7 linked regions of the Homo sapiens genome follow. The protein of the gene in region 1 purifies or fractionates together with the protein of each later gene. This does not show direct contact. Each region holds a gene or a part of one and is shown on either strand. Other genes may lie near its edges. The genes, in order: LLGL2, UBE2A, RAD18, UBE2O, DCAF1, HMG20A and PPFIA1.

Region 1 (4,179 bases):
CTGGGCGTGGGGACGAGGAGGCTGCAAGGCACCTGACTCTACCCTTCAGGAATTCGGCAGAGACTGGAGCCTTCTCTCGAGACACCTGACTTAGTGTTCCCAGAGTTTGATGAGAGGGACATCTGGGCACAGGACCATATGACTGTAATAAATTATATATATGTATATATACACACACACACACACACACACTTTTTTTTTTTTTTTTTTTTTGAGACGGAGTCTTACTCTGTGGCCCAGGTTGGAGTGCAATGGCATGATTTCGGCTCACTGCAGTCTCCCCAGGTTCAAGTGATTCTCCCACCTCAGCCTCCCCAGTAGCTGGGATTACAGGTAGCTCCCCAGTAGCTGCTACCATGCCCAGCTAATTTTTTGTTTGTTTTGAGACGGAGACTTGCTCTGTTGCCCAGGCTGGAGTACAGTGGCGCGATCTCAGCCCACTGCAAGCTCCGCCTCCTGGGTTCACACCATTCTCCTGACTCAGGCTCCCGAGTAGCTGGGATTACAGGCGCCCGCCACCACGCCCAGCTAATTTTTTTCTTTGTTTTTTTGTTTTGAGTCTGAGTCTCGCTCTGTCGCCCAGGCAGCAGTGCAGTGGCATGATCTTGGCTCACTGCAACCTCTGCCTCCCGGGTTCAAGCAATTCTCCTGCCTCGGCCTCCTGAGTAGCTGGGATTACAGGTATGCGCCACCACACCTGGCTAATTTTTGTATTTTTAGTAGCGGGGGGGTTTCCACCATGTTGGTCAGGCTGGTCTCTAACTCCTGACCTCATGTGATCCACCTGCCTCGGCCTCCCAAAGTGCTGGGATTACAGGCATGAGCCGCTGCGCCCAGCCCTCTAGTAAATAATATTAACATTTAATATAATTCTGGAATTCTCTGGGGGTCCTGGAGCTTTGGTTAAAGGCAGGGTCCACAAGGGTATTCCGAACAGGATGCCAGGCATGACGTCCACAGGGCCCTGGCCTTGGCCGGAGACTTGAGGACAGGGTAAGGAAGTTCCCTGAGAACCCTGTGGGGTCCTACCTCAGTGTTTCGTGGGGTCAGTGATTGGCAGATACCTTTTCTAGTTAATCCCTAGTCAGTCTTAACTGTTCGTTCATTCATTCAAGTACTTTTTTTTTCTTTTTTTGAGGAGTCTTGCTCTGTCGCCCAGGCTGGAGTGCAGTGGCGCGATCTCGGCTCACTGCAAGCTCTGCCTCCCGGGTTCACGCCATTCTCCTGCCTCAGCCTCCCGAGTAGCTGGGACTACAGGCTCCCGCCACCACGCCCGGCTAATTGTTTGTATTTTTAGTAGAGACAAGGTTTCACCGTGTTAGCCAGGATGGTCTTGATCTCCTGACCTCGTGATCTGCCCGCCTCAGCCTCCCAAAATGCTGGGATTACAGGCGTGAGCCACCGCACCTGGCCCTTTTTTTTTTTTTTTTTTTTTTTGAGATGGAGTCTCACTCTGTCACCCTGGCTGGAGTGCAGTGGCACGATCTCGGCTCACTGCAAGCTCCGCCTCCCAGGTTCACACCATTCTCCTGCCTCAGCCTCCTGAGTAGCTGGGACTACAGGCGCCCGCCATGATGCCCAGCTAATTTTTTGTATTTTTAGTAGAGACAGGGTTTCATCATGTTGGCCAGGATGGTCTCGATCTCCTGACCTCATGATCTGCCCGCCTCGGCCTCCCAAAGTGCTGGGATTGCAGGCATGAGCCACCGCGCCCAGCCCGTTCAAGTATTTTCTGATGCCTCTTGTGTGGTTCTAGATGTTGGATGTGATCCTTAAACAAAGCAAAGATGTCTGCCGTCGTTGAAAGTTGTTTCTAAAAGGTGAGAAGCCTGACTGACAGAAAGTAAAAGTAACTAATAAATTGTGTTAAAAGGTGATACGGGCTATAGGGTAAAAAGAACTAGAGCAACAATTGGGAACCCGCATGGTAGGGGGCAGGTTACAACTTTTAACAGGTGGTTAGAGTGGGCCTCTGCCAGAAGGTGACATTTGAGCAAAGCTTTGAAGGAAGTGAGGGAGCTGTTTAAATAAAATTCCAGTCCCTCCCATGAGGCACCTGGATGAGGCCAGCACAATCCCCACCTCCTGGAGCTGACATCTGGAAGCTTCTTGGGACAGCTGTTCCAGTTTTAGGGCAGGTAGGAGGCCCTAGAAAGGGGCCTGATTGGATGGGCTGGATGGCCTGCCCACGCCAGCCCCAGGCAGGTGGTCCATCTTCTCCCCAGAATGGTTTTGCTTTTCCTTGGACTTGGCTTTCTGCCAGTCACTTCCCTGGAGAGAGAGTCTGGTGTTGGATTATGAAAGGGGGCTAAGGCCCCCAGAATGGGGGTGCGTTCCCACCTTCCACCCCATCCTCACAGGCCCAGGAGGGGCAACAGAAAGGAAACTTCAGGAGGAGTCTAGGCATGGCGGGAGGATCCTCTTGGGGTTGTGGGATGGTTGTGATTCCATAGGATAGATGGTGGGGGGAATGGAGGCTGACCCCAAATGGGGCCCATCCAGCCTGCGAGCAGGCAGCCCCTTTGTCCTGGGAGAGAGGCCTGACCTGAGCGGAGGATTCTGCAGTCAGATTGGAATGCAAATTGGGGCTTGGATTTTTTTTTTTCTTTTTTTGAGAAAAGGTCTCGCTCTGTCACCCAGGCTGGAGCACAGTGGTGCCATCATAGCTCACTGCAGCCTCAACCTCCTGGGCTCAAGTGATCTTCCCACCTCAGCCTCCTGAGTAGCTGGGACTACAAGTGTATGCCACCATGGCTGGCTAATTTTTAAGTTTTTTGCTGAGACAAGGTCTCCCTAAGTTGCCCAGGCTGGTCTCGAACTCCTAGGTTCAGTGGATTCTCCTGCCTCGACCTCCCAAAGTGCTGGGATTACAGGCATAAGCCACTGAGCTTGGCAAAGGACTTGGACTCTTGACTGTTTGAGCTTGGGGCCACTCTGAATCGATCACTTCATAAGTAATTGTAAGAATTAAATAAGGTGAATGTAAAGTGCTAAAGTCACATCCAGCCATAGCTAGCTCTCAATCCCTTTTACTACTTAATTAACAACAGCGGGGACGACAGTCCTCCAGTCATGCCCCCATTCCCTCTGGTTTGTGTTCCCCTAGATCCCACTCCATGGAACTGCCTTTCAGCCAAGGTTTGGTTGCTAAGCTGCTGGCCAGGGACCTGCCTGGTGCTTCTGGGAGACTGGGCTTCCCAGGGCGACATGGGCACTTGCAAAGCGGCTACAGGCGTCTGAGTTGGCACAGATGCCGCAGGGGTCAGCAGCTGCCTCTGTGGTTTAGATCCCTGCCCACCAGTGCCATCAGAGTAGGAGGTGCAGGGGCGGATTCACATCCGTCAAACAGGAGGCCACAGCCACACTCAGGCCTCACACAGGATGTCGCAGAGGGGAAGGCAGCTTCTTAATCAGCAGCGGGCTGTGGGGAGCACGAGCGAAGAGGAGAGGAGAGCATGGGACATCAGGTGGCACGCCCTGAGAGCAGGCAGCTGGCGCTGGGTGCGGCCCGGGGGCCCTCTCTGGTTTCGGCTGGGTCTGGAGTCCTGCCGCTGGGTGTGGACTCTCCCAGCAGATCAATGAGATCAATGGAACTTCCCGAGCTATGGAGGGAGTTTCTTGAGGGCTGGCCCCTCCCACATCTCCAGGCCAGAGGGCTGGCTGGGCTTGGCCAAGCCTTGGTCTCACAGGGACAAATTAGCCCAGGTGCCCCAAACAGTGGCAGGGTGGGAGAAGCAGTCTGGCCTGGGGATCCCCTCTCCTCCGAGGCACAATCGCATCTGCCACTTAGAGCGAGGGGGGCCCAAGGCAAGTCCACCCCGTGTGGTTATTCTCTCTCTCTGCCCCCACTGGTCTCTTTCTTGAGCTCTTGAGATGGAAGGCGGGCCAGGGTGTGGATTTTGTGGCCTGTCACCAAGTGGAGAGCTCTCCTGTTCTTTCCAAGTGGGTGTCCAGGTGTGTGGACACCTGTCCTAGACCCAGAAATATTTTGCCGGCCAGGTGCAGACGTGGGTGAGTGGAACAGTGAGGAGGGAAGGAAACAGGTCGATCAGCTGCCCACAGGGAGCTCTCAGGCTGGTTCCACATGCAAGGCACAGACTTGGGTAGAAAGTGGATGGGAACCAGCCACAAGGCAGCAAGCCTTTTGCGGCCCGGCTCTAAACCCTGGCGCCCGCCAAA
Region 2 (4,179 bases), on another chromosome or scaffold:
TGTGGTTAGAAAAGAAAGATTTAAGAAAATGTATTTATCACTTTGTTCAGTAGTACTTTGTTTTTAATGCTATGTGGGTTTTTCCAAGTATTAAATAATGCAAAGATACAGGGTAGAGAGGAAAGGCCAGGTAAGAAATACATCTCTAGGAATTGCTCTAAGAACTACTCAAATGTGATTTTTTGTTTTGCCATTATTTTCCCCCAAACTTGGAGACAGCCATCATAAACACAAAATTACTGCTTACAAGATTTTAGCCACTGTACATTTTGAAAACATCCTTAAGAAACTGGGCCCAAAATTTGGCCTTCTTCCTTTAGAAGACCAAAAGACCTCAAAGGCCTATGTTAGTCAGCTGCCATCTTAAACGCTCCAGTGATTTTTAGACAGACTAGAAAGAATGAAAGCACAATGGTTCAAAAACCAATGCCAGAATACAAATCCATAATCAAGTTATTTTTAAAATAGAAGGGAATAAGTATAAAAGTGTTCATACTGGTTCCTTTTCATGTCATAGTGACCCTATAATGAAAACTTAATTGAATTTAAGCCAGGAAAAACTTCATAGTCCCTCTCAGAAACCCTTAAGTATGGCTCATAAGGTACTTCACTATAAAATCAACTCAATTATTCACACATATGGAGGGAATTAATGGCAGAAATAATTTTAAAATCACATTTGGTTTAGATTGCATTCATGTTTCCAGCAAATTTATTTTTCTAATGTTTATGCTACTATTGAAATGAAATTATTTTTCTTAAATATATGTCAACCTAAGGTAGCAGGAGGCCCTAAAGCATAGTAGGTTATAAACTTACTTACAAGGCATGGACAAACTGGATCTCATTCAAGAATTGTTAAGATGTGATATGAAGAGATTATGTCCTTTAAAATATTATTTTCAATTGTTTGTTGAATAAATTGAAGAACACAATTGAGCAATGTTTTTTCCTGACTGAAATCTGTTCAAGTAAACTTAGAAGAATCAGTTACTATATGGTATAAGGTGATGCATGTTCCACTATATTACTCTGGTCCATTTAACAAATTATTCTAAAACAACAGACCATACTTCAGTGTATTTCTTACTGGTTCCTTCAGAGTTAGCAATTTATTTCCTTTTTGTTCTCATTAAAAGGTTTATCACTGCTTAAGAAAGAGAGAAGACTATAATCATTCTAGGACTAGATCTGTGACAAAACAGTATCAAAAAGTTTGTTTTTAGCAAGCTCATTGGAAACAATTTGCTAACAAAGCTGCCCTTACTATGAACAAGTGTCTCAAAGCTTCAAAATAATATAAAATGCAACATACAGAGACATTATATTCCTCAAATTATTGTTACTCCCTATTTTCTTTTCAAAGCCAGACCTGAAGATACTATGTATTATAACTAAGAAAGTAAAATCTTATGGAATGGACAAACATATGCCCATTAGAAGTATGGAAGTATGTCCATCAGAACATACTTCACCTTTATCACCACCTGGTCATAAATCTTCCTCTTTCTGAGGAAGAAAGCACAGTTCTTCCTTTTCAGTATTTATTGACACTATAATATGCAAGAAAAAGTGGGAATGTGTTAGAGTTCAAAACTTTGAGTTTCCTTATGTATTATGATCTCAAGTGTAAACACATTTGGATCAATGTTGCAATCTGACTAAATTATGGGTAAGAGACACTGCTCTAAAACTGGGCAGATGTAATAGCACATGGAGATCCCAGCTACTTCAAAACCATCACTAAATATGGTATCTAAAGGTAGTAAAGCAAGACATAGGGAAGCCATAAGCAAAAACAGTAAAACACACTGCTAAGAGCATGAGCTCTGCAGTCAGACAGGTCTGGGCCCAAGTCCTTGCTTTGGTACTTACTAGCTGTGAGACTTTGGGGAAGGTGTTCTCCTTGACTAAACCTTAAGTTCCTCATTTGTAAAATGAGATTAATCATAGTACCCACCATATAGCATTGTTGTGAGGTTTAAATGAGAGGAATATGCATAGTTCCACAAAGTTAAGTGCTCCAAAACCATGAGCAACTATTTTTGCTATAATAATTCTAAAGTTTCACATCTCTAGACTCAGCTGAAGGAGGCAAAACCCAAAAATCAGAACTATCAGTAAGAAATATACAATTAAGGCATTCAGATATTAAACAGTACTTTTAGGTCTACATCAAACACTCACAGTTCAAAGCAAGTTGAGTACCTATATTGGTGGCTCACAAGTTCCTTGACTTGAGCTTTCTGCATACACTTGCCCAGAAGTTCAACTAAGTGATTACCTAGCTACCAAAGAAGTTAATCGCAAGTCTTTTAAAACAGTTCACTTAATATCTTGAGAAGTGAAGCAACCTATTTATGTCTACTTGAATATAAATTAAGACAACCCAAATCTTATTCAAGGTACACATTAAAAAGAGGGTAAAAACTTCACACTTTTAGTCACACTAATCAGAACCTGTTTAGTATAACCTTCAATGTAATTTCTAAGCTCTAAAACAAATGTTAAGGGAATTTAAAATCCCAGAATTAGTATTATGCAGTCTTGAGACTACAGCTTACCCTCTGAATATTTAGAAGGCTAGGCTTTAAAATAACTGAAAATTTAAGCCTCACCATTGTTGTACATAATGTATACTAATTTTGTTCATCTTCCCGAGGAGGCTAAGACATCGTAAGGAAAGTATCAATTAATCCATCTATACAGGGAGACCACCAAAATTACATAAACGTGTTAAGTGACTGGTGTATGGCAATAAGGAGTGATATGGTTGAACTAGAGGGGGTATATGTTCTGCCTAAAGACACTCACAAAGTCAAGTTTTGGAAAATACTGTGTTGGCCAAAGAAAACACACCTGCAGGTGTTTTCTGCCATTTGGCCACCAGTTTGTGACCCCTGAGAAGAAAGCAAAATACATATAACTTCAAAATTATTTTTGATGACTGAAAATCGATTTTTCAAGTAATATCCAAAACTCTTCATCATAGGATTTATTTATATTTAAAACACTCTTAGTGGACTTTAGAGATTCATTTTGAAAAAGATTTTATGACTCAGAAACATTTCCAAAAATTAAAAAAAAATAAAAACGATTTATACCCCAATTCTAAAGAACACATCTATTATGAAAAGCAAATACCAGTACCTTACCATGTCTATTAACAATTTTTAGATTATGTGATGAAGATTATATTCCATAACCTTTGTATTTAGCATGTATACCAAGATATTCTGATGAGGAAGCATTTCTCCCCAATGTTTTGGTAGTGTAAGCTCTTGAGAATATATTCCTCTTACTTCGAGTGTGTGAAGTTAAACCAAAATACCCTTAAGTGTTGCTTGTCTTAAGATTTCATCACTCTAACTAGGACCTGGTTGTTCCAGAAACTTCCATAACGAACGGTTTACAACAAAGAAGCAAAAGTAGTTTTGGGGTTCTTAATTAATAACATAATACATTGGAAACAGCAAAATCAACTATGCCACTTATCCCTAATCAGTCTTTTCTCTAACTGTAAATTCCCCAACTATAAATAAAGGGTATTCAAAAAATGGTTAAGGCTGGGCACGGCTGCTCATGCCTGTAATCATAGCACTTTGGGAGGCCGAGGTGGGCGGATCACCTCAGGTCAGGAGTTCGAGACCAGCCTGCCCAACATAGTGAAACCCCCTCTTTACTAAAAAATACAAAAATTAGCTGGGCATGGTGGTAGGTGCCTGCAATCCCAGCTACTTGGGAGGCTGAGGCAGAAGAATTGCTTGAACCTGGGAGGCAGAGGCTGCAGTGAGCTGAGCTCGTGCCACTGCACTCCAGCCTGGGTGACAAGAGCAAAACTCCATCTCAAAAAAAAAAAAAAAAAAAAAAGCTAAAATTTTTTTTGTGGGGGAACCACAGGCCACAGTGTTCCAGACACCTGAGGAAGCATCCATCGGTAGCAGACTGTTCAACAGAACAAATCAGCCTGAGTAATTCCTTTCAGTAATGCTAGGATGGAGATACACATCATCAAAAATAGAACCAGTAATGTCAAAGGTGACAGTCCTGGTAGATAATGGACTCTGTAAGTACCTTTTCAATTCATACCACTTAAGAGAAGCACCCTTGAAATATTTAGGTAGCCAATCCCCAGCAAAGTGATGTACTATTAATAAAGCTGTGCCCAGCATAAAACAG
Region 3 (4,179 bases), on another chromosome or scaffold:
TGAAATCAACACAAGGCTGCAATCCCTGAAAAAGAAGAAAACATGAAGTAGTCCAACATTTCCCCCAAGACTTACTTTACCCTGGGAGCATTTTCTAGGAATGGGTACTAAAGTGAAGTCTAAACAGGAAACATTGATCTTACTTGTTAGAGAAAATAAGAGATCAGAGTTCTGAACAAAACTGGCCAGGATTGAGGGGTCAGAGTGCTTTGACACGTGGTAGCTACTGAAAGGGAACCCCACCAGTCTGCTTAGAAATTCACATCCATTCCTGCTCATTTCCAGGGCTGCACATGATTAGACAAAAACACAGGAGACCCACTAGGAAGCTGATACTGGTAAATTAAAATCCCAAACGTCAGTGCTGGAAAGTTAGTTGTTCGCATTGGAGCCCAGCCAAAGCTGAGAAATCTTGGTAAGATCATGGACATTCAAGTGACACCCCACAAAGACCACACCTTAGAAAAATGGACCACACTGAAGAAATATAAACAAAGCTCAAACAGACCTAACCTAAGAAAACATTATACCAGGCCTTGACAGAACAAAGATGAAGAGCTGATAATTTAACTGCCTCTTAGAACAAAATGTGACATCTTTCAAAAGAAGACAATTCACAGCTTCTACAACGTTTCAACCACAATGTTCAGCACATATTTTAAAATTATTGAACATGCAAAGAAGCAAGAAAAAGTAGCCACTAATCAAGAGATAAAATATTCAATAGAAGCAGACCCAGAGGTAATCCAAAGAATAGCATCTCTAGGTAAGGACTTCAAACTATGATAAACATGTTAAAGAAAAAAAAAGAAAAGGGATAAAAAGATAGTGTATTATGAGAAATAAAATCCATAAAAAAGAATAAAATGAACATTCTACAACTGCAAAATACCATATCTAAATTGGATGAGTATAACAACACACAATACAAACTTGAAGGCAGGTCAATAGAAAATATCCAAACCAAGCACAGAGAGAAAAATGAATGAAAAAGACAAACACAAAAAAGTATGAGATATTGGGCATAATTAAAAGCCCAGAAGGAACAGAAAGAAAGAATGGGAAATCAGCAATACTAGAAAAACCAATGGCTGAGAATTTTCAAATCTGATAGAAAAAAAAAATCAACCCATAGATTCCACCACTACCGAATTTACATGAAACGCAACAACAGAAAAATAACTAGAAAATCTCCAAATGTTAAGAAATAAAGCACCACACTTCTAAATAACCCCGCATGTCAAATCACAATGAAAACTAGAAAAATATTCTAAACTGAACGATAGCATGAAGGGTTGCCAAAACTGTCCCTGGAGGGAAAATTATTGAAAATAGAAAAAGTAAAAACCACCACTCTAAGCTTCCAACTTAAAAGGTTAGGAAATGAACAGCAAACTAAACCCAAAGAAGAGAGAAACTAATAACAGATACTAGTGAAATAGAAGAGATAACAAGAGAAAACAAGCAAAGCCAAACATTGGTTCTTTGAAAAAATTAACAAAACTGTTAATCCCTACTAAGACTGAACAAGAAATAAATGAGAGAAAATACAAATTACCAAAACAAAGAATTAAAAGAAGACCTCGTTACAAATCCTATAAAGAAGATAATTAGAGGATATTATGAACACTTTAAAACAACAAATTTTAAATTTTAGATAAAATGGACAAATTCTTTGAAAAGCACTATTCATCAAAACTGACAAAGAAACAGAAAACCTGAAGAGCCCTTATTATCTGTTAAAGAAACAGAAGCTATAATTTAAAACTTTTCCACAAAGAAAACTCCAAGCCCAGATGGCTTCACTGGTAAATTCTACCACATATTTAAGGAAGCTTTGTTTATTTCTTCAGTGTGGACATGGTGGCACATACCCATAGTCCTAGCTAATTGGGAGGCAGAGGCAGGAGGATCCCTTGAGCCCAAGAGTTCGAGGTTACAGTGAACCATGATCATGCCACTGCACTGCAGTCTGGGCAACAGAGCAAGAAGAAGAGAGGAAAGGGAGGAAGGGAAGGAAAGGGAGGGAGGAATAGACGGGGGAGGGAGGAATAGAGAGGGGAAGGAGAAAGGAGGAGGGAGGGAGAAAGGAAAGGAGGGAGGAAGAAAGGAAAGCAGAGAGGGAGGGAGGGAGGGAGGAAGGAAGGAAGGAAGGAAAAGTCTTGTCCATCTGTTAACTATACAATAACCTTACCTCTTCAGAATGGGGCTAAGAATCAAGAGTCAAAATAGGCCTTTGGGTAGACATGGGCAGCCATTAAATCTATGCAATCAATTCCATGGACTTCTGTAACTAAAGTCCTGCAATGCTTGTTCTGATCAGAAACATGTAAACAGCAGTCTAGAACCATTTGGCTAAACAATAAACTGTAGTCGGCCCTTCCCATCCACCAGCTCTGCATCTGTGGATTCAACTAATCACAGAGCAAAAATGTTCAAAAAATAATAAAAGTAACAATACAACAATGAAAAATAATATAAATTTTAAAAACACAGTATGACAACGATTTATATAGCATTGTATTAGGACTATAAGTAACCTAGAGGTGATTTAAAGTATAAGGGAGGATGTGCATATGCAAATACTATGCCATTTTATGTCAGGGACTTCAGCATCCACAGATTTTGGTATTCTCAGGGGTCCTGGGACCAATCCCCTTTACTGAGAGACAACTGTACTAAATTTGATCGTTTTTAGAATGCAAACCAATAAAGAAATGTGTAATTCTATTGAAAGAAATCTGTTTATATTTTTAAAAGCAACATAAGGTACCTCATAGAATGTTCCAACATGCTTTGTTCAACAAGAGACCAAATACACAGTGGTGGTTTCATTAGACGATAATGGAGCTGAAAAATTCCCATTGCTAAGTGACATCTTGATAATCCTAACCCTGTGTGGGCCTAGGCTAATGTGTGTGTTTCCATCTTCTTTTTTTTTTTTTTTTTTTTTTGAGACGGAGTCTTACTCTGTCGCCAGGCTGGAGTGCAGTGGCGTGATCTCGGCTCACTGCAACCTCCAACTCCCTGGTTCAAGCGATTCTCCTGCCTCAGCCTCCCAAGTAGCTGGGATTACAGGTGTGTGCCACCATGCCCAGCTAATTTTTGTATTTTTAGTAGAGACAGGGTTTCACCATGTTGGCCAGGATGGTCTCGATCTCCTGACCTCGTGATCCACCCACCTCGGCCTCCGAAAGTGCTGGGATTACAGGCGTCAGCCACCAAGCCCGGCCTCCATCTTCATTTTTAAGAAAAAGTTTAAAAAGGAAAAAATAATAACAATTTTTAAAAACAGAAAAAACCTCACAGAATAAGGATATAAAGAAAGATGCTTATACAGCTATACGATGTGTTTGTGTTTTAAGCTAAGTGTTATTACAAAAGAGTCAAAAAGTTAAAAAAATATAAAAGTTTACAAAGTGTAAAAGTTACAGTAAGGTTAATTATTGAAGAAACTTTTTTATAAATTTAGTGTGTAGTCTAAGTGTACAGTGTTTATAAAGTCTACAGTAGTGTATGGTAAGGGCCTTAGGCCTTCACATTCACTTATCACTCACTCATTGACTCATCAAGAGTAACTTTCAGTCCTGAAAGCTCCATTCATAGTAAATGCCCTATAAAGATGTACCATTTTTTATCTTTTATACCATATTTTCCCTGTACTTTTTCTATGTTTAGATACACTAATAGGTACCATTGTGTTGCAACTGCCTACCGTATTAGCTATAGTAACATGCTGTACAGGTTTTGTTACCAAGGAGCAATAGGCCCTGCCATATAGAATAGGAGTGTAGTAGGCTATACCATGTTGGTTTGTGTAAGTACACCGTATGATGTTCACACAGCAACCAAATTGCCTAATGACACATTTCTCAGAACACATCCCTGTTAAGCAACACATGATTACACTTAACTACAGGGGCACCTGACCACTATCTAAACCAGTACGTCCTTCATAAAAATTCTTGTTTGACTTGCATGATTAAAACTAAAAGTAATCCAAGATATTGAAACATGCCTTTTCATATCCCTTTGGGTGACCAAACTCACTTTCACACATTCATGCATTTGACAGGAAGTAAAGTTGCATATCTGAGCTTTATAAAGTACAAGCAATTACATATTTCAAATGCCATACCATTTAATACATGCTGAATAAATCCGATTAAGAATTAACAG
Region 4 (4,179 bases), 910 kb from region 1:
CTAGAGGCAGGGAGACCAGGGAGAAGGCTACACAGTGCAGGCATGAGGCAAGCAGAGAGCAAACCAGGGTTGTGAAAGGGAAATGCAGGCACAGGATGCAAGAGGCCTCTCAAAGAACTGATGACAAGTTAGAATGAGGGCCAAAGAAGGTAAATTAAAAATGACCCCAAATGCTCTAATTTTGAGAAGATTCAAGCTTAGGTATTTAGGGGTGAAGTGCTATCATGTCTGCCACTAACTTAGCAGGAGTTAGTACCAGACATAATTCAGGAGGAAATATATTTACATAAGCATACAGATAAGGCAAATATGGCAGGATGTTAACAACTGCTGACTCATAATGGTTGGGGGTTAGCAATTACTGGCTTTCAACATTTTGGTATGGTCAATATTTTTTCCTATTAAAAAGTTGGGTCTTGGGTTCAGAACCAAAAACAAAAAAAGTTGGGGAATATATATATATATTTTTTTCCTCGAGAAAGAGTCTCACTCTGTCGCCCAGGCTGGAGTGCCGGGGCACGATCTCGGCTCACTGCAACCTCTGCCTCCTGGGTTCAAGCAATTCTCCTGCCCTAGCCTCCCGAGTAGCTGGGATCACAGGCACCCACCACCACGCATGGCTAATTTTTGCATTTTTAGTAGAGATGGGGTTTCACCATGTTGGCCAGGCTGGTCTCGAACTCCTGACCTCAAGTGATCCACCCACCTCGGCCTCCCAAAATGCTGGGATTACAGGCGTGAGCCACTGTGCCCAGTCAGAACATTTTTTTTTTTTTTAAGTCCACAGACTTGGGGATGGGAAGGGCAGTCACAATCACAAGATTTTATACCCACAAAGTCTACATGGCACAATGGAGCTATCAAGTAAGCAGCTGGGCATGTGATGTCACTGTGGAAGTCACCTAAATACAGGTACCAGATGCAGCTACAAGCAGGGAGGTCACTCCAAAAAACTGGGGAGGAAGAGATAAAGAAAAGAGAGGTCTTTGGAAAAGCTGCACATCTATGGGTAAGAGGAAGAAGACAAAAGGCAAAAAAGAGAAACATTTGGTATAGTCTGGTATAATAGAACCCCAAGGAAGGAAATACCGTTAAGAGGGCATGGTCGGCCAGGCGCGGTAGCTCATGCCTGTAATCCCAGCACTTTGGGAAGCTGAGGCGGATGGATCACCTGAGGTCAAGAGTTCGAGACCAGCCTGACCAATATGGTGAAACCCCGTCTCTGCTAAAAAGACAAATATTACTCGGACGTGGTGGCGGGAGCCTGTAATCCCAGCTACTTGGGAGGCTGAGGCAGGAGAATCGCTAGAACCCAGAAGGCAGAGGTTGCAGTGAGCCAAGGTTGCACCACTGCACTCCAGCCTGGGCGACAGACTGAGACTCCATCTCACAAACAAAGCAAAACAAAACAAAACAAAACAAAGAGGGTGTGGTCAGCTAGGCACCGTGGCTCACGTCTGTAATCCCAACACTTTGGGAAGCTGAAGTGGGAGGATCACTTGGGGTCAGGAGTTCGAGACCAGCCTGGCCAATACCATGGTGAGACCCTGTTTCTACAAAAATATTTTAAAAAGCCGAGTGTGTAGTTCCAGCTGCACAGGAGGCTGAGGTGGGAGCACTGCTTGAGCCCAGGAGGCGGAGGCTGCAGTAAGGTGTGATCACGCCACTGCATTCCAGCCTGGGTGACAGAGCATAAGGCTGATGGATCAAAATGAGGACAAGGACTGAGAAAATGTCAGCAAATGCAGTGATCAGAAATTCACTAGTCATTTGTGACCTTCAGGGGAGCCGTCACACTCAGTGGTGTGAGAGGTTAGACAGAAAATGACTGAAGGCGAGAGCAGGTCATGAGGAAATGGAGGCAGACATCCATTTCCCCCAGTACAGTGCTGGGATGACCCAAAAGCACACTGGGGGACCAGAGAAATGCTTTCTTCCTTGGCTTGAAGATGATGTCATCAACCTTCAGGGCCCTCAGAATCCCTTAAATAATAAAACAGTCAGAGCACATGAATACCGGGATGCTTTCAGCACTGCATATGTCAAGCCCTGAGGCTCCCAGAATCCCTGGAGACGTATTTGTGTGTCTACACTTCCCACCTGCACTAGCGGTGACCACACACACAGTCCGGTGACCACACACACAGTCCGCTGAATCTGCCGGTCAAGGTATCTATCTTCAACTGCCCTCTTCCAGAGGGAGCTCCCACAAAAAGGACCAGAATTAAAAGGAGGAGGAAGAACATCATCGGAGCTGCTGAGTGTGAAAAGACCAGCTCTCTTGCAGGATGCAAATGAAGGCCTCTCTTTTTAAGGGTGCCTGCAGGAAATCTCTCTGTCAGTGCTAGCTGGGAATATTCATGTCATTGTTGGGTAGGACTGACTGCCTTTTTTTTTTTCTTTTTCCAAGCATGACTCAGTGTTTTAATTTTTTTTTTTACTTTCAATTATCATAGTCAGACTGTTTCCCAGGTATAGTTATGCTATCAATTTAAACCAAAAGTGACCTGAAAAATGTCTTACTCCTTTGACTTAGCTGCAGAATATTAAATATTGCTGTGGCCTCTCTAAAAATGCAAACCAACTCAAAATCCCCCAACCAAAGAACCAGATTAAACCCAAAAAGGACATTCATTCCAATCCTTATTGCCCACTGAATACTTCTGAGTGGTATGTCAACTGACTGCAATGTTTAAACCATAAAAATGTGCTTTTCACAATACTGCTTCAGGAGAACACAGCCTACCTGTGTCTAGGGGTGACCTGGACAAAGCTGACCCAAGGATCCATCCAATACAGTCAGCCTGGATTGAAGGACATTAAATCCTCAATCACAGAGTATAGCTAACGAATGAAACAAAGGCAAATAACTTGGAGTAGATAAATCCAGAGAGTTATCCAGTAACACAATTCAATTTTATTCTCAACTACAGCAAATTCCAATAAGCATTTTGCTCTTCCCTGGCTATAACTGCACACATCAAGTGGCTCCTGACAGAGTCCCCCCGTGGCTGGCTGGAATGTCAGAAGATGAAGCAATTCCGAACGGGCACTCTTGCTCAGTAAGAGCTGCAAATGTGGATGGGCAGCATTTAGACCATGACCTTCTCCAGGACTGGCACCCATTCATGGGCAAGTGGAGCCTCAGGAAGGAGCTACAGTTAAAAATACCGAGATCCTATTAAGTGAGAAAAGTGATAGCCTCTTGTAAACTGGAAAGCACATTATAGACGTTCCTGATTGTAACTTGCCCCTTTTGATTGTCATTTTAAATCAGCAACTCCCCATCGCCATCCAGAAGCAGGCTAAGCCTTGGGCAAGGAAATTCCAAAAGCTTCCATCAGAATAGGAGCACAGATCATATCCTCCTGGGTGAAAACCCACATGTCACAGAAAACCACCCTGACTCCAACTCTGAGGGGACCGACCACCAGCGGCAGCTGACACTGATCACGTGCCCAGGACTGTTGTGCTGGCAATTCATGTTATACACGACAATTGCACCCTTTTAAAAAGTGCTGGCCCCCAACAGGTTCCACTGGATTCCATGAGCCCCCATGGTGGGTTAAGTAGTAAAAAATAGAAAAAGTTCCTCTTAGTATAACAGGAAAATGAAAAAACAAAAACAAACAAAAAAAAAAACCAAACAAACAAAACAGAGAGAAACAGGGATAAAAGTGAAGTAGAGATGGGGAAGGTGCAAAGAGGCCTCTAATGTCCTAAAGCAAAAACACACGGAAACTGAAGGGAACAGAAACTGAAATTGAGGTGGAACTCAGCCTCTCCAAGGAATCCTTCCTGAACCTGTCTCATGACTCAGCATTCCCAGCCGAAGGATGACAGCAGCAGAGCGGACAGGAGGTCAAGTTGGAGCTCCTAATGGAGCTGACCACTTCTGAGGCAACACAGAAATGCCAGTTACGTGGAGTGTCTGCACACTTGTTTTGCTCTAGGAGGTGGAGTTGGGGAATAAAACTGAACTGCAGTTCAGTGTTGGAATGAATCAGACTACAGAGGTTGCTTCATTCAACATTGAGGGGCAGTCAAAGGTTCTCTAGAAATGCAATGTGTTTTTGACAGTTATTTTGAGAATGACTGAGGGGTCAGGGAATGAAAAGAGTGGAATCTGCAGAAGCACACCGCCAGTGCGAATGCAGTGTTCCTCCCGTCCTGCTCCCT
Region 5 (4,179 bases), on another chromosome or scaffold:
GCCTGCCAAGAATCTCTTCCAAGCAGTGATGGCTCCTCACTCATTCAGAGATAAGATGATGTCATCTTCCAAATCAGAGTTGTCAGAGCTGTCAGCTGAAAGGGAAGAAAAGGGAGAGACAAGATTACACACTAGGCTTATAGGAAGCTTTCCTACAGAAGCACCTGCACTCACATACATTCATGCCCGAGCAAGGTTAACTACCAGTTTCCAGAAAGAAGAAAACACATCAATTAACTCCTTGGAGCTGGCTCTGGAGAATACTCCTGTTGCTTGGCAGTTGTATTCTCCCGGAGACCTTTTGCTCTCCTAAGGGCCTGGACACAGTTCCCCTGCTTCCTGCCTGGGAGGCGCTGAAGGGATCAAGCGAGTGCCATCTGAAGCTTCCCCCCATGCCACTTTAAATGGCTGCAAAGGGGCAGAGCTGACGGGAGCAGTGAGTAAGCCTCCATGGCCCTTGGCCTCTGCTGTCCTTCAAGGATACGCACAGGCCTGCCTGACCCCAAGAGACCACTAGAAAGGCAGGCTAAGACCAGGCAAAAGTGAGAGATGTATCTTTTCTGAAACACCTTAGTCACTCCCTTCAATCCTCAGAAGACCGACCACCAAGGCAGAGATAGTCACCCTAGATTCATGCCTCTGTAATTTCAGAATATAGTCTGCAAATTATATTCCCAAAAAGGTGCAGGCCAATTTGCAGCAATACAAGAGAAGTAGCTACCCATCCAGAGGCAGGAGGCCAGCGGGAGCAGTGTGACGCCCTGGAAGACAGCACTGTCTCTGATGAGGACCCTCTCTGCTTGACAATCTGCCTTCTCTGGCAGCACACGGACACATTAACACTTCTGGAAGGATCTGTTAAGGGGTGAAACTTAAGTGGTAGCAAAAAGGACCCTCAAGATGAGGTAGATACACCATGTCTGGCTGATCAAAATCAGAAAGAAACAGGGTACCTAGCTTGTAGGGACTCTAATATTCGCTGAGTCAAAGAAAAGGAAAGTTCTCAGTGCCCAATTTGATTACTCGTAGCTCAGGAGGCTATGAAACCATTTTACCTAGGTCCCCCATAAAACAGACAAACCCTGAGCCCGTAAAACAGACAAACCCTGAGCTGGAGCCCTGCAAATGCCCCATGTGGTAAGGGGCAGCCACTAGATGCAAAGAATCCCTCATCAGCCTTTTTCCAGTGCCTAAGAGAATCAACTCTTGGACAAACAGAGAGCAATCATGTTCCCAAACCTTCCTTCATTCATTATCCCCAAACACAACTTCCTTTAGGAGGAAAACTGAAGTGGACAAAGGAAAACCAAGAAAAGCATGGCAATGATACAAAAAAGTCTGGAAGTAAGCAAAAGAAATGGCTGACAAAACCAGTGTTCCTGGGTCTAAGTGGGCACAAGAGTGGCCTGACTGTATTGGTGATGTATTGGTGAAGAGTAGGAAAACAAGATGGAGATGGCAAAGAACTATTATCTAACACAGCTGAACAAAGCAAGCCTCAGCTCCTCTGCTGTAAGAGCTCCAGGAGGAAGTGTCACAGGAGGGTGTGGGGCCTCCTCCCCAGAGCCAAGTCCAGCACTGTGTCCCCACCCCATACCACAAACTTGCCTGGTCCCTGCGGCAGCATCCACAGCATCCCCCAGGACTCATGCTCTCCACAAGCCAACAATGCCAGACCCACCGGCCTGAGACCCTTCTGCCCAGCAGCTATGCAGCTCTTAAGAACTAAGAATCTTAACCACGCTGTAGCACATCTAAGAACTGTAAATGCAGCTTAACGAGGTCACAGCACAATCTTCTTTAAGCAAGTAACTGTCAGGCTCAAGGTCTGAGAGAAAACCTCCAGGGCTTGGGCACCAACTCCCCTCTGGTGGTCAGACCATAGGACGCCTTTCTCTACCTTCCTTATCCTTTCCCCACCTTCCTTATCCTTTCCCCATTCTCCAAGTGTTGAAGTGACCCAATCCCAAACCCTGGTTAGGACCTCCCATTCTGAAAGGTCGCTAAGGCAGACAATCTAGGTATAATTAATCCCTGTAGTGTTTAACCTATCGCTCTACAACATACAGGTTCTGGAGGCAGGGCTGACAAGCAGAGACACATAAAGATCTCAGAATCAGGCCGGGTGCAGTGGCTGATGCCTGTATCCCAGCACTTTGGGAGGCCAAAGCAGGCGGATCACGACGTCAGGAGATCAAGACCATCCTGGCTAACACGGTGAAACCCTGTCTCTACTAAAAATACAAAAAATTAGCTGGGGGTGGTGGCGGGCGCCTGTAGTCCCAGCTACTCAGGAGGCTGAGGCAAGAGAATGGCATGAACCCGGGAGGCGGAGCTTGCAGTGAGCCAAGACTGCGCCACTGCACTCCAGCCTGGGCAACAGAGTGAGACTCCATCTCAAAAAAAAAAAAAAAAAAAAAAGATCTCAGAATCAAGCTGTTTCTCTTCCTAGGGCCAGGGCTCTGCATCTGCAATCAGGGAGTCCCTGCAGACTCCAGGGCCTACGTAAAGGTACGTGGGGGCGCATGGGTGTGGTTTTCTATAGTTTCTATGGCTTTCACCCTATCCTAAAAGGGCTCTTCATAAGCCCAGTAAGGTTCAGAGCTACTGCTCTAAAGGATTAGTGTTAGGCAAAACCATGGGTGCTAAGAATGCTCTCCTTGCTGACAGCAGCTGGCTCTTCTATGAAACACAGAAAGAGCCATGGAGTGTGCTCCAGATGCCACCTCTGCATCTCCACCTCAATTCTGAAGTCCACTCTGAGACGTCCTCAAGTTGTGATCCATTATTTTCACATCGTAAATATTCTCATAAAGTAACAACATTCTCACAACTGATAGAGTTAAAGTTTTCCAGATTACCTTTGGCTTGAAAGAAGGAATTTCCTCAACAGCTAAAAGAGGCAGTAATTGTACAGGCCAAATACAAACTGAGTGGCTTTATATTCAAATTAAGAATGGAAAAATTAAAGTGATGCTCTCTTATTTTGGGAGCACCACCATCAGCTGGCCTGCTGTTTGCTGACCCTGCGAACCTGCCCTGCTAACTACTTGTAATTGAAAGGAGGTATAACTTGTTTCCCATGTCTCACTATTCACACGTGACAAAAACGTTCATTAAAACTTTGTCTGACCAGGCTTCGGCCTACTCCACTGAATCACCTCAGCCTCCAAGTATGAAAAAACAGAAGTTGATGAACAGCAGATGAACATATAGAAGACACTCCCCTACCCTCCCACCCTCAAGCTTCCTCAAAATACAGCCTTGGTAAGAAGATTCATGTACAGCTGCAGAGCTAACAGCCTCTTTGAACTATTTGCTGATTTCTGCAGGATTCATTACCATAGTCAGGGGACAACTTGACTTCAGAAACCTAATGGGAAATAACTAGAAGAACTGGAGTTTGTTCCTCAAAATTTGGATTAAGAAAAAAAGGTAAATAAAAGGAAGTGAATAAACCAGAAGCCAAAGGGAAAATATTTTCCCCTTGGCTGTTAGGAGGGATTAGCCAAAGGGAGACAGGAAAGGGCTCCTCCACAAGAGGGCCTGCATTTCTTTATAATTCACCCCAAAAAGAACAGCACCCCATGAGGGGCTGCTTCTGACTGATTCTAGCCATGCCTCTCGGCGGAGAGCTACACTTTGGCCTTTCATTCTAAGGCTAATCCTCTGAAGCAGGAGTTGACAAACTACAAGCCCACCACCTATTTTTGCAAAACAAAGTTTTATTAGAACACAGCCACAATCATTCATTTACGGATTGTCTATGACTGCTTTCTCACTACAACAGCAGAGTTGAAGAGCTGCAACAAAGGCCATATACCCTACAAAGCATTTTTTTTTTTTTTTTTTTTTTTTTGAGATGGAGTCTCACTCTATTATCCCAGCCTGGAGTGCAGTGGCACGATCTCGGCTCACTGCAACCTCCGCCTCCCAGGTTCAAGCGATTCTCCTGCCTCAGCCTCCCAAGTAGCTGGGATTATAGGCATGTGCCACCACGCCCAGCTAATTTTGTATTTTTAGTAGAGACAGGATTTCATCATGTTGCCCAGGCTGGTCTCGAACTCCTGACCTCAGGTGATCCACCCGCCTCAGCCTCCAAAGTGCTGGGATTACAGGCGTGAGCCACCGTGCCCGGCTGCATAAAATATTTACTGTCTGATCTTACAGAAAAAGTCT
Region 6 (4,179 bases), on another chromosome or scaffold:
AGGTTCAAGCAATTCTCCTGCCTCAGCCTCCCAAGTCACTGGGATTACAGGTGCCCACCACCATGCCTGGCTAATTTTCTGTATTTTTTTAGTAGAGACGGGGTTTCGCCATGTTGGCCAGGCTGGTCTTGAACTCCTGACCTCAGGTGATCCACCTGCCTTGGCCTCCCAAAGTGCTGGGATTACAGGCTTGAGCCACCGTGCCCAGCCTCCACTAGTTTTTTAAATCTTTGAACACAAAAATGACTTGGTGCCCAGTAGAAAAGCTAAGCAGTTCACAGCTTAAGAGGGAAATCTGACACCCGAGCTCCTGTATTCATAACGGTGGCCGCCTAGTAAGGGGGCTGGGCTGTGTGAACCACCTGCCAATGGCAGCTGAGCAAGAAAGACACTGAAAAGCTATGTAATTTCAGAGCACTTAATTTCTACTTGTATTTTTCTTCCTAACAAAAGAAAGCAAAGTTTCCCAGAATAATTTGAAAATGAACAACAAAATTATCAATCGAAAGTCCCAAGTTTCAACATGCAAAGCTCTACCTCGAGCCAGTTCCTAGGGGATTTCAATGGAAACTAATGTATGAACAAGAAAGGCTGGTTCCAGAAGGAATCTTAGCCATATTTCGCAGTGGCTTTCTCTCAAATTTGCTGGCTTCCCATATGCTTTAACTGTTACTGGGCTGCTGCAGGAAAACAAAACTTAATGACACACAATCCCAACATGCACAAGGCATAACAGATATAAACATAAGTCCACAGATGACAGCATAAAGACTTAGGACATTATCATCCTATCTTATTCAATCTCCAACTTAACTGCAGTTACATGAGATCAGTTACCTAAGCTATACGTCTCAATATCTGCCAGTTAGATGGGTAAAGTGGAGACGCTTGGCTCCCATTACCATGGTACAAAGATCCCTCTCCTCCAAAGTCTTGACTCTCCTCAGACTGGTAATCTTTTCTCTTCTTTGCCAGAGCAGTCCAAATCAAGCTAATTATGTAAGGGCAGAGGACAGCACCACATAGGTGCATTAACACACTGCCCCTTGGTACAGATTCTCAGAGCACAAAATAAGAAACATTAAAGCAATTCAATGAAACTGTTCAGTCTCTGAAAGGTAACAGAGAAATTCTACTTAATGGAAGAGTGGTAATAAAAACCATCAGCGCTCTTCCATTACTGAGCACATTTCACGGCATGGAGAGGATCCTTCTGGGGGCTTGGGTGTACTTAAGCTGCTCCAAGGATAGCTCAAAGGATTAAAATCATAAGGATCTGATTACCCTTTCACTGAAAGGGTCTAATTTGTTCAAGCTGAGTGTCATTCTGTCATTTCTCATAAATTAAAGGAGAAACAAAATTATTGTTTCTATCTTAGTTTTCACATGAGATATAGACACTTTCTTGAGAGTAATACTCGCTAACTCTTGGGTCTAGTGGGCTGGCTTTCGATTTGAGAGGAGCAAGAATATTCTTCACTTTGGTTTCCATTCTATATATTGAGTGGAGGTTAAGAGAAAAGAGGCCCTTTTGAACTGAACCTATTTTGCTGTGATCTAGGCTCAGGGCCAGAATTTCAAAGAGTGTGATATGTGCTTCTCTCAAGAGACTTTTACTTTGGGAAATGCTCTTAACATTGTGTACCAGCCTGAAGTGCCCCACTGCTATGCAGAATGGCTTTCAGGTCAGCATTTCTTTAGCTCTAATATGCCCTCTCCAGTACCTGCCTTGGTAACAATGACTTAGGGATCCAAGTTTCATTTAGGAATACAATAGGTTTCTTTACTATACACAAACCAAATAGTTTACTTAACTGGCAACACATTTTGCTGACACCTTGGGCAACGAGGCCCATTTTTACTTTCAACGCTGTAATTTATGCTATGTAGCATGGCACTGTGCTGTCAAGAATGTTAGACTATGACACAGAAGGCCTGGGTTTCTGTCACAATTCTGCCTCTAATTTAATTCAGTAAGTGATTCTGGGTAAATTCTTTCCATTCTATATACTGTCTTAGGCAAGTCACTTTCCTCACTGGCAAAATGAGGTGGTCAGTTGAGAGGATCACTGAGTCTCAGTGTTTTACTCCTCATAGGATAAGTAAAGGGAAATAAGTATGTATTTAGGATCTATGGTCTTTAGACACTGCAAGATATTTGCTCTTTTATTAAAAACTTACTCATACCTCTGCTCAAGCCATTTTACCCACCCTGAGATGCCCACAAAACCTAGGTCATTTTTAAGTCCTGATTCAATTACTCCTTTCCATGGGCTCCTTCTGCGGCTGCTTTTCACCCATAGTGCTATTTTTCTGAACTTCTATTATACTAAGAAGTTATATGTAAGAAAATTACTGGGTAACAGTGTTTAAAAACAGTTTTAAAACTTTCAAATCAGTTCTTTTATACTGCAATTGTTCTAAAATTATCTAATTTAGGAAACATATTATTCAGTGAAAAATAAAAATGGATGAAGTAAGGGACATTAATTGGGTCAACACGCTTACTAAAGGAGCTTTATCCTGCTGTGGCCATACCAACACATGGATTTACAGAACCTACTGTATAACCTTTTAAGAAACAACTGCTGGCTCTCCATCTACTCACTCCTTTTTTTTGTTTGGTTTAACATGTGTCTAATCCTGTAACAGGGAAATACAGAGACTCACTTCTTTTTGCAAATCACAGAAATTACAGAAATTCATATCACACTAATGTATCTGAATAAACACCTTCACTTCTCAAATAATCAGCAGCAGGTTCTATGATACAGACTAAATCTACATCTTTTCTGACTGCAACTATCAAGTTTACTGAAGACAAAAATGCTACATATAGTTTGGCCAGCAAAATTCATAGTGATGAAATGAGTCAGATGACTGACACCTATTCAGATGACTGACTAGAAAATGTGAGATCTAATGTTTCAGGTTACTGTCCAAATTCTCTTTGGTAACTGTTAAGGATAGAGAAGCTATAAAATAGAGAAAAAAAGAAGCACAGGAATTTCATGATATTGATAGCTGGGCACACAGGCAAAGAAAGAGAGAAGTAATTATACAAATGTCTGCTAATATGAAAAGTTTACAATATTATTATGATTTAAAATACAAAGAATACATACAAAGTTTCTCCAGCAAAACAACATAACATTTCATCCTAATTAGAGCATAGAATGTCATATATAATTACATTTATATAGGATTTATCTGAAGAATAAAATGTAAATATTTACTATGCTTCTCACTTTATAATTCATAGATGGTAATAACGTCTATTTGACCTGTGAATCTGAATCTTTTCTCTATGTTTTAAGGTAACCAACATTTCCTTGATTTAGTAAAAAACCAAACACATGTAAAAGAGTACATCAGAAAATTCTTTTTGTTCAAATTCTCAGTTATTTCAGGTCAACTTTGAATAGATTCCATAAAATAATCATTTGTGGAATACCTTCTCAAGGCAAAGGTATCATGATAGGTGGTATGGGGTTGGATATAAAGATGGAAACTAGACTGTGTATGTCCACAAAGACATTACAACCAAAGAGTGTGAGCCCTTGAATTACCTCAAAACCCCTAGGTCAGATCAGCTAAGCACATAACACAAGTATAGAGAGCCATGAGGGTTAAAGGAAGTTAGAGGAAACAAGAAAAGTTTGAAGGAGAAAACAGAATTTGAAACAACACACACACCTAAATCCCATACACACACAGAAACACAGGCCTAAATCCTAACAATGGGGCTGAACCAAGTGGGAGGAAAGAAGCCAGTACACAAACATGTGCTAGTGAAGTGAGGGAATAGGAAAGGAGGTGTGAGAACTGAGATACTGGGCCGGGCGTGGTGGCTCACGCCTGTAATCCCAGCATTTTGGGAGGCCAAGGCGGGTGGATCATGAGGTCAGGAGATCGAGACCATCCTGGCTCATATGATGAAACCCTGTCTCTACTAAAAATACAGAAAATTAGCCGGGTATGATGGCACGAGCCTGTAGTCCCAGCTACTCGGGAGGCTGAGGCAGGAGAATTGCTTGAACCCGGGAGGCGGAGGTTGCAGTGGGCTGAGATTGTGCCACTGCACTCCAGCCTGGGCGACAGAGTGAGACTCTATCTCAAAAAAACAAAAAACAAAACAAAACAAAAAACAAACCTGAGATACTGTCGCTTGTGCTCTAT
Region 7 (4,179 bases), on another chromosome or scaffold:
CTTGTGCCTTAGCCTCCCAAGTAGCTGGGATTACAAGCATGTGCCACCACACCTGGCTAATTTTTGTATTTTTTTTTTGTAGAGACGGGGTTTCGCCATGTTGGTCAGGCTGGTCTCAAACTCCTGGCCTCAAGGATTAGCACAGTTTTTAATGCCACTTCCTTTCCTCCAGTCTGCTCACTGGCCTCAGAAGTGAGCATGAGTGACCTGTGTGTAGCACAGGGGCTGCCAAACAGCCCCGACTGACACGGGCTCAGAACTTCACCAGCTTAATGAATGAGGCATTCAATCATCGCAACTACTCTATGAGGAAGACACTACCATGACGACCATTTTACAGATGGGGAGACCGAGGCCAGGGTAGTTAAATGACTTGTTCAGGGTCATGCACCTCCTAGTGGCAGAGCTGGAGTCAAACCTAGGCAGCCTGGCTCTTCAACCTGTGCACTGCCTTTCATTAGATGAGTACAAGGGCAGAGTTGAGAGACCTGTAAGGAAGCCATGGTCAACTGTTAACCTCAAATCAAAGTGGCCGTCTAAGGGAAAATCCCAAACTGCATGTGAAATCATGGCAGTGATGCTCTCTCTCTGGCTGGTATAGTCAATAGCTGCCTCGCTCCACTGGGGACTTCTTGGAGGTTCACCTTCCTCCCTTCCCTGCCCTCTAATGGGTAGACATGTGACTGCACGGAACAGCAGCAGCAGGGAGGGCAGAAAGCATAGGCAGAGCTCACACAAGCTGGAAACTGTGTGTTCTTAAAAATGTACTCAGTTATTTTCTCTGGTGTGGAGAGCAGTAAATTATGTGGTTTGGAAGCTACTACTACACTACTATTTCCTGAAAGAGCTTTCTAGCACGGCCTGTCACAGACACAAATTTACAAGTATGCCTCAGTCTCTCTCTGAGAACACAGACGAATACTGAGCTTTATTAGTTGGAAAAATATGCTAAGATTCAACCAGACAAGCGTGTTTTAAAAATTCTATTATTATGGTTAAACTTTTATAAACAAATGTTAGAGTTAATTTAAAAACATTTATATTTGGACATGCAACCATACTCAAGTGCCTTGTAACATATTAAATAGGCCGTTTTAGATCATTATTAATGTTCCAGACAGAAAGCTGCTCATGCTCCCAACAAGTGACAGGTTAGTGTGACCCATCACATACCGTCCATCTGCATCTTCTTTGGCTGCATAGAGGGGGAAGACATAGAAGAAGTCACCCGGAAGTTTGCAGGGAGAGTCTCTGCTGACCCAGCAGCTAAGCCACGAATGTCCTTTGGTCTAAACTTTTTTCTCCATGAAGGTGCTCTCCTAAAGCTTTTATCATCATCCTGGTAAATTAAGGAACAAAAAACAAGATTCATTTAAAAAATAAAGGTCAGAGATGTAAAGTTACATGTCCTTTAAAATGACTGCTGATCTCGAGAATGTATTCTTGTCCACATGTATTTAATCCCTTCTTGATGACCACACAATATATTGCCCAACCTGGAACTTCAGCGTGAAACGGGGCATGGTGATGGTCCGGCTGGGCCTCAGCTGGCGAAATGAGGTCGGTGCTGGGCCATGAGGATGTGCTCCTTCTCCACAGCATCATGTTCTACTTCTTACACCTTGCAGGAATCACTTTCTTGCAACGTAATACGTTTTTATTTATCTTAAAAATAGTTTATTTTTCATTTTTATTTATGTTTTTACAGACAGAGTCTAGATCTGTTGCCCGAGCTGGAATGCAGTGGTGTGATTATAGCTCACTGTAACCTCAAACTCCTGGGCTCAAGCCATCCTCCCACCGCAGCCTCCTAAGTAGCTGGAACTACAGGTGTGCCCCTACCACACGCAGCTCTACAAACAATTTTTAACTAGAAACAATTTTATCTTATGCCAGGATATAGCAACAAGTGCTTCATCTTTAGAGGTGGTCTTCTATTCTCTCTGTCAAACTCAACTTTTCTTAAGGTCCAATTAAGAGACTCCTAATCGTGTGGAACAAATGAGTCATGGTTTTAAGGGGAAATTAACATTTTGTGTTTTTAATATACTTCTGAAACATGCCACCCCACCCATGCACAGGAGTATGGGGGTACACTCTGGACTGGGGTAGGATAACTACTGGTCCCCAAAACCCAACTTACAGACTCTGTTCCTAAGCTGCAACCAATGTTTTATGATGTGAAAACCATTTTTGAGGGATGTCAAAAATTAAATAGCAAAAATAAAAACAAAACTACCTTCTTGAAGGTATTACTTTTGTGGGTTTTTTTTTTGCGGGGAGGGGGTTTCTTTTTGAGATGGAGTTTCTCTCTGTCGCCCAGGCTGGAGGGCAGTGGTGCGATCTCAGCTCACTGCAACCTCCACCTCCCAGGTTTAAGCGATTCTCCAGCCTCAGCCTCCCAAGTAGCTGCGATTATAGGCACCTACCACAACGCCCGGCTAATTTTTGTGTTTTTTAGTAGAGATGGGGTTTCACCATGTTGGCCGGGCTGGTCTTAAACTCCTGACCTCTGGTGATCCGCCCGCCTCAGCCTCCGAAAGTGCTGGGATTACAGGTGCGAGCCGCCGTGCCCGGCCCAGGTATTAGTTTTTAAAGGCTCATTTGTGAATAAATGTATAAGAGCAAAGCCTGACTTCTAACATCCAGAGAGACTGCCTAGCTACATGATGTCCCAAGTATAATAATAATAACAGCTTACATTTCACACACATTTAAACATTTACACACATTTCAGACATTTAAAGAACATTAGGCCAAAAACTTACTTCATCAAACCTTCTATCAGTCCCCATGACCAAAAGGTTGTTAAATTCTCTTTCCAAGACAGCACGAGCCTGAAATAACCAAAGAAAAACAAATAAAACTTTCATCAAATCTAATTTGAAGGGTGTTAGCATCGTAATTGTTTTTTAAACCAAGACTTAAACTCCCTCACTGCTGGCTGGGTCTGGTGGCTCACGCCTGTAATTCCAACACTTTCGGACGCCAAGGCGGACAGACCACCTGAGGTCAGGAGTTCAAGACCAGCCTGGGCAACATGGTAAAACCCCGTCTCTACTAAAAATACAAAAATTAGGGCCTGGGTGTGGTGGCTCATGCCTGTAATCCCAGTACTTTGGGAGGCCGAGACAGGCAGATCACTTGAGATCAGGAGTTTGAGACCAGCTTGGCCAACATGGTGAAATCCCATCTATACTAAAAATACAAAAATAAGCCGGGCACGGTGGCGTGTGCCGGTAATCTCAGCTACTTGGGAGGATGAGGCAGGAAAATCACTTGAACCTGGGAGACAGAGGGTGCAGTGAGCCAAGATTGCACCATTGCACTCCAGCCTGGGCAACAAGAGCGAAACTCCATCTCAAAACAAACAAAAAAACAACTCCCTCACTGCTATGACTACATTGAACCATAATAATATTTTAAATCAGGGCATCTAATGTGGAGTCAATGGATGGGCTTTTGCAGAAAGGGATCCATGATCCTTGGAGTCATATTAACAAGGGTGTGTTGTGTGGGTTGGTCAGGGGTATTGGCCAAAGATATTCAATTTTTTTTTTTTTTTTTCCTTTTTCTTTGGGATGGGGGTCTCACTCTGTCACTCAGGCTGGAGTGCAGTGGCGCAATCAGAGCTCATCACAACCTCCACTTCCCGGGCCAAGCAATCTCCCTGCCTTGGCCTCCCAAGTAGCTGGGACTACAGGCATGTGCCACCACACCTGGCTAATTTTTTTGTATTTTTTTGTAGAGACAGAGCTTCACCATGATGGCCAGGCTGGTCTCGAACTCCTGGACTCAAGCAATCTGCCTACCTGGGCCTCCCAAAGTGTTGGGATTGTGGGCATGAGCCACCTTGCCTGGCATATTCAATGTTCTGTAGAGGAATAAAAGTTCCCTGTTTTTCAAATGAGCCCATGAGTCAAAAAGAATGGCATAAGGCAATTACCCATAAAAACAAAATTAATAAAATCTTCATGTGGCACACCTAAAAACACTTCTCTTTCCATGTAAGAACTAAATATATGTCACTCTTCTGATCAGGCACATGGGCTGGAATGAAAGATCGTCCTTATCTGGTTTATTGCAGGACTCTCATGCTTCCAACAGAAAAGGGAAAGCCAATAGACCAAAAAAAAAAAAAAAAACCAAAAACTAGTTGTCTGAAGTTTTTTTTTTTTT

What was found.
Region 2: the proteins of LLGL2 (region 1) and UBE2A purify together in Homo sapiens (co-immunoprecipitation; 3 studies listed by BioGRID and IntAct, with this or other methods). This does not show direct contact.
Region 3: the proteins of LLGL2 (region 1) and RAD18 purify together in Homo sapiens (affinity purification with mass spectrometry; 4 studies listed by BioGRID and IntAct, with this or other methods). This does not show direct contact.
Region 4: the proteins of LLGL2 (region 1) and UBE2O purify together in Homo sapiens (co-immunoprecipitation; 3 studies listed by BioGRID and IntAct, with this or other methods). This does not show direct contact.
Region 5: the proteins of LLGL2 (region 1) and DCAF1 purify together in Homo sapiens (co-immunoprecipitation; 4 studies listed by BioGRID and IntAct, with this or other methods). This does not show direct contact.
Region 6: the proteins of LLGL2 (region 1) and HMG20A purify together in Homo sapiens (affinity purification with mass spectrometry; 2 studies listed by BioGRID and IntAct, with this or other methods). This does not show direct contact.
Region 7: the proteins of LLGL2 (region 1) and PPFIA1 purify together in Homo sapiens (affinity purification with mass spectrometry; 2 studies listed by BioGRID and IntAct, with this or other methods). This does not show direct contact.

What each region holds. Positions count from the first base shown.
Region 1 is NC_000017.11:75,531,886-75,536,064, forward strand, and holds part of LLGL2 (LLGL scribble cell polarity complex component 2), read left to right. Parts: exon of another isoform or gene 1-993; intron 994-1,414; exon of another isoform or gene 1,415-1,820; intron 1,821-4,179. UniProt on the Homo sapiens protein: Part of a complex with GPSM2/LGN, PRKCI/aPKC and PARD6B/Par-6, which may ensure the correct organization and orientation of bipolar spindles for normal cell division.
Region 2 is NC_000023.11:119,577,327-119,581,505, reverse strand, and holds part of UBE2A (ubiquitin-conjugating enzyme E2 A), read right to left. Parts: intron 1-4,179. UniProt on the Homo sapiens protein: E2 ubiquitin-conjugating enzyme that accepts ubiquitin from the ubiquitin-activating enzyme E1 and transfers it to a E3 ubiquitin-protein ligase. In vitro catalyzes 'Lys-11', as well as 'Lys-48'-linked polyubiquitination.
Region 3 is NC_000003.12:8,942,537-8,946,715, forward strand, and holds part of RAD18 (E3 ubiquitin-protein ligase RAD18), read right to left. Parts: intron 1-4,179. UniProt on the Homo sapiens protein: E3 ubiquitin-protein ligase involved in postreplication repair of UV-damaged DNA. Postreplication repair functions in gap-filling of a daughter strand on replication of damaged DNA.
Region 4 is NC_000017.11:76,442,832-76,447,010, forward strand, and holds part of UBE2O ((E3-independent) E2 ubiquitin-conjugating enzyme), read right to left. Parts: intron 1-4,179. UniProt on the Homo sapiens protein: E2/E3 hybrid ubiquitin-protein ligase that displays both E2 and E3 ligase activities and mediates monoubiquitination of target proteins. Negatively regulates TRAF6-mediated NF-kappa-B activation independently of its E2 activity.
Region 5 is NC_000003.12:51,398,733-51,402,911, forward strand, and holds part of DCAF1 (DDB1- and CUL4-associated factor 1), read right to left. Parts: intron 96-4,179; coding exon 37-95; 3' UTR 1-36. UniProt on the Homo sapiens protein: Acts both as a substrate recognition component of E3 ubiquitin-protein ligase complexes and as an atypical serine/threonine-protein kinase, playing key roles in various processes such as cell cycle, telomerase regulation and histone modification.
Region 6 is NC_000015.10:77,472,231-77,476,409, reverse strand, and holds part of HMG20A (high mobility group protein 20A), read right to left. Parts: intron 1-4,179. UniProt on the Homo sapiens protein: Plays a role in neuronal differentiation as chromatin-associated protein. Acts as inhibitor of HMG20B. Overcomes the repressive effects of the neuronal silencer REST and induces the activation of neuronal-specific genes.
Region 7 is NC_000011.10:70,375,190-70,379,368, reverse strand, and holds part of PPFIA1 (liprin-alpha-1), read right to left. Parts: intron 2,838-4,179; coding exon 2,769-2,837; intron 1,340-2,768; coding exon 1,174-1,339; coding exon of another isoform or gene 1,166-1,173; exon of another isoform or gene 898-1,165; intron 1-897. UniProt on the Homo sapiens protein: May regulate the disassembly of focal adhesions. May localize receptor-like tyrosine phosphatases type 2A at specific sites on the plasma membrane, possibly regulating their interaction with the extracellular environment and their association with substrates.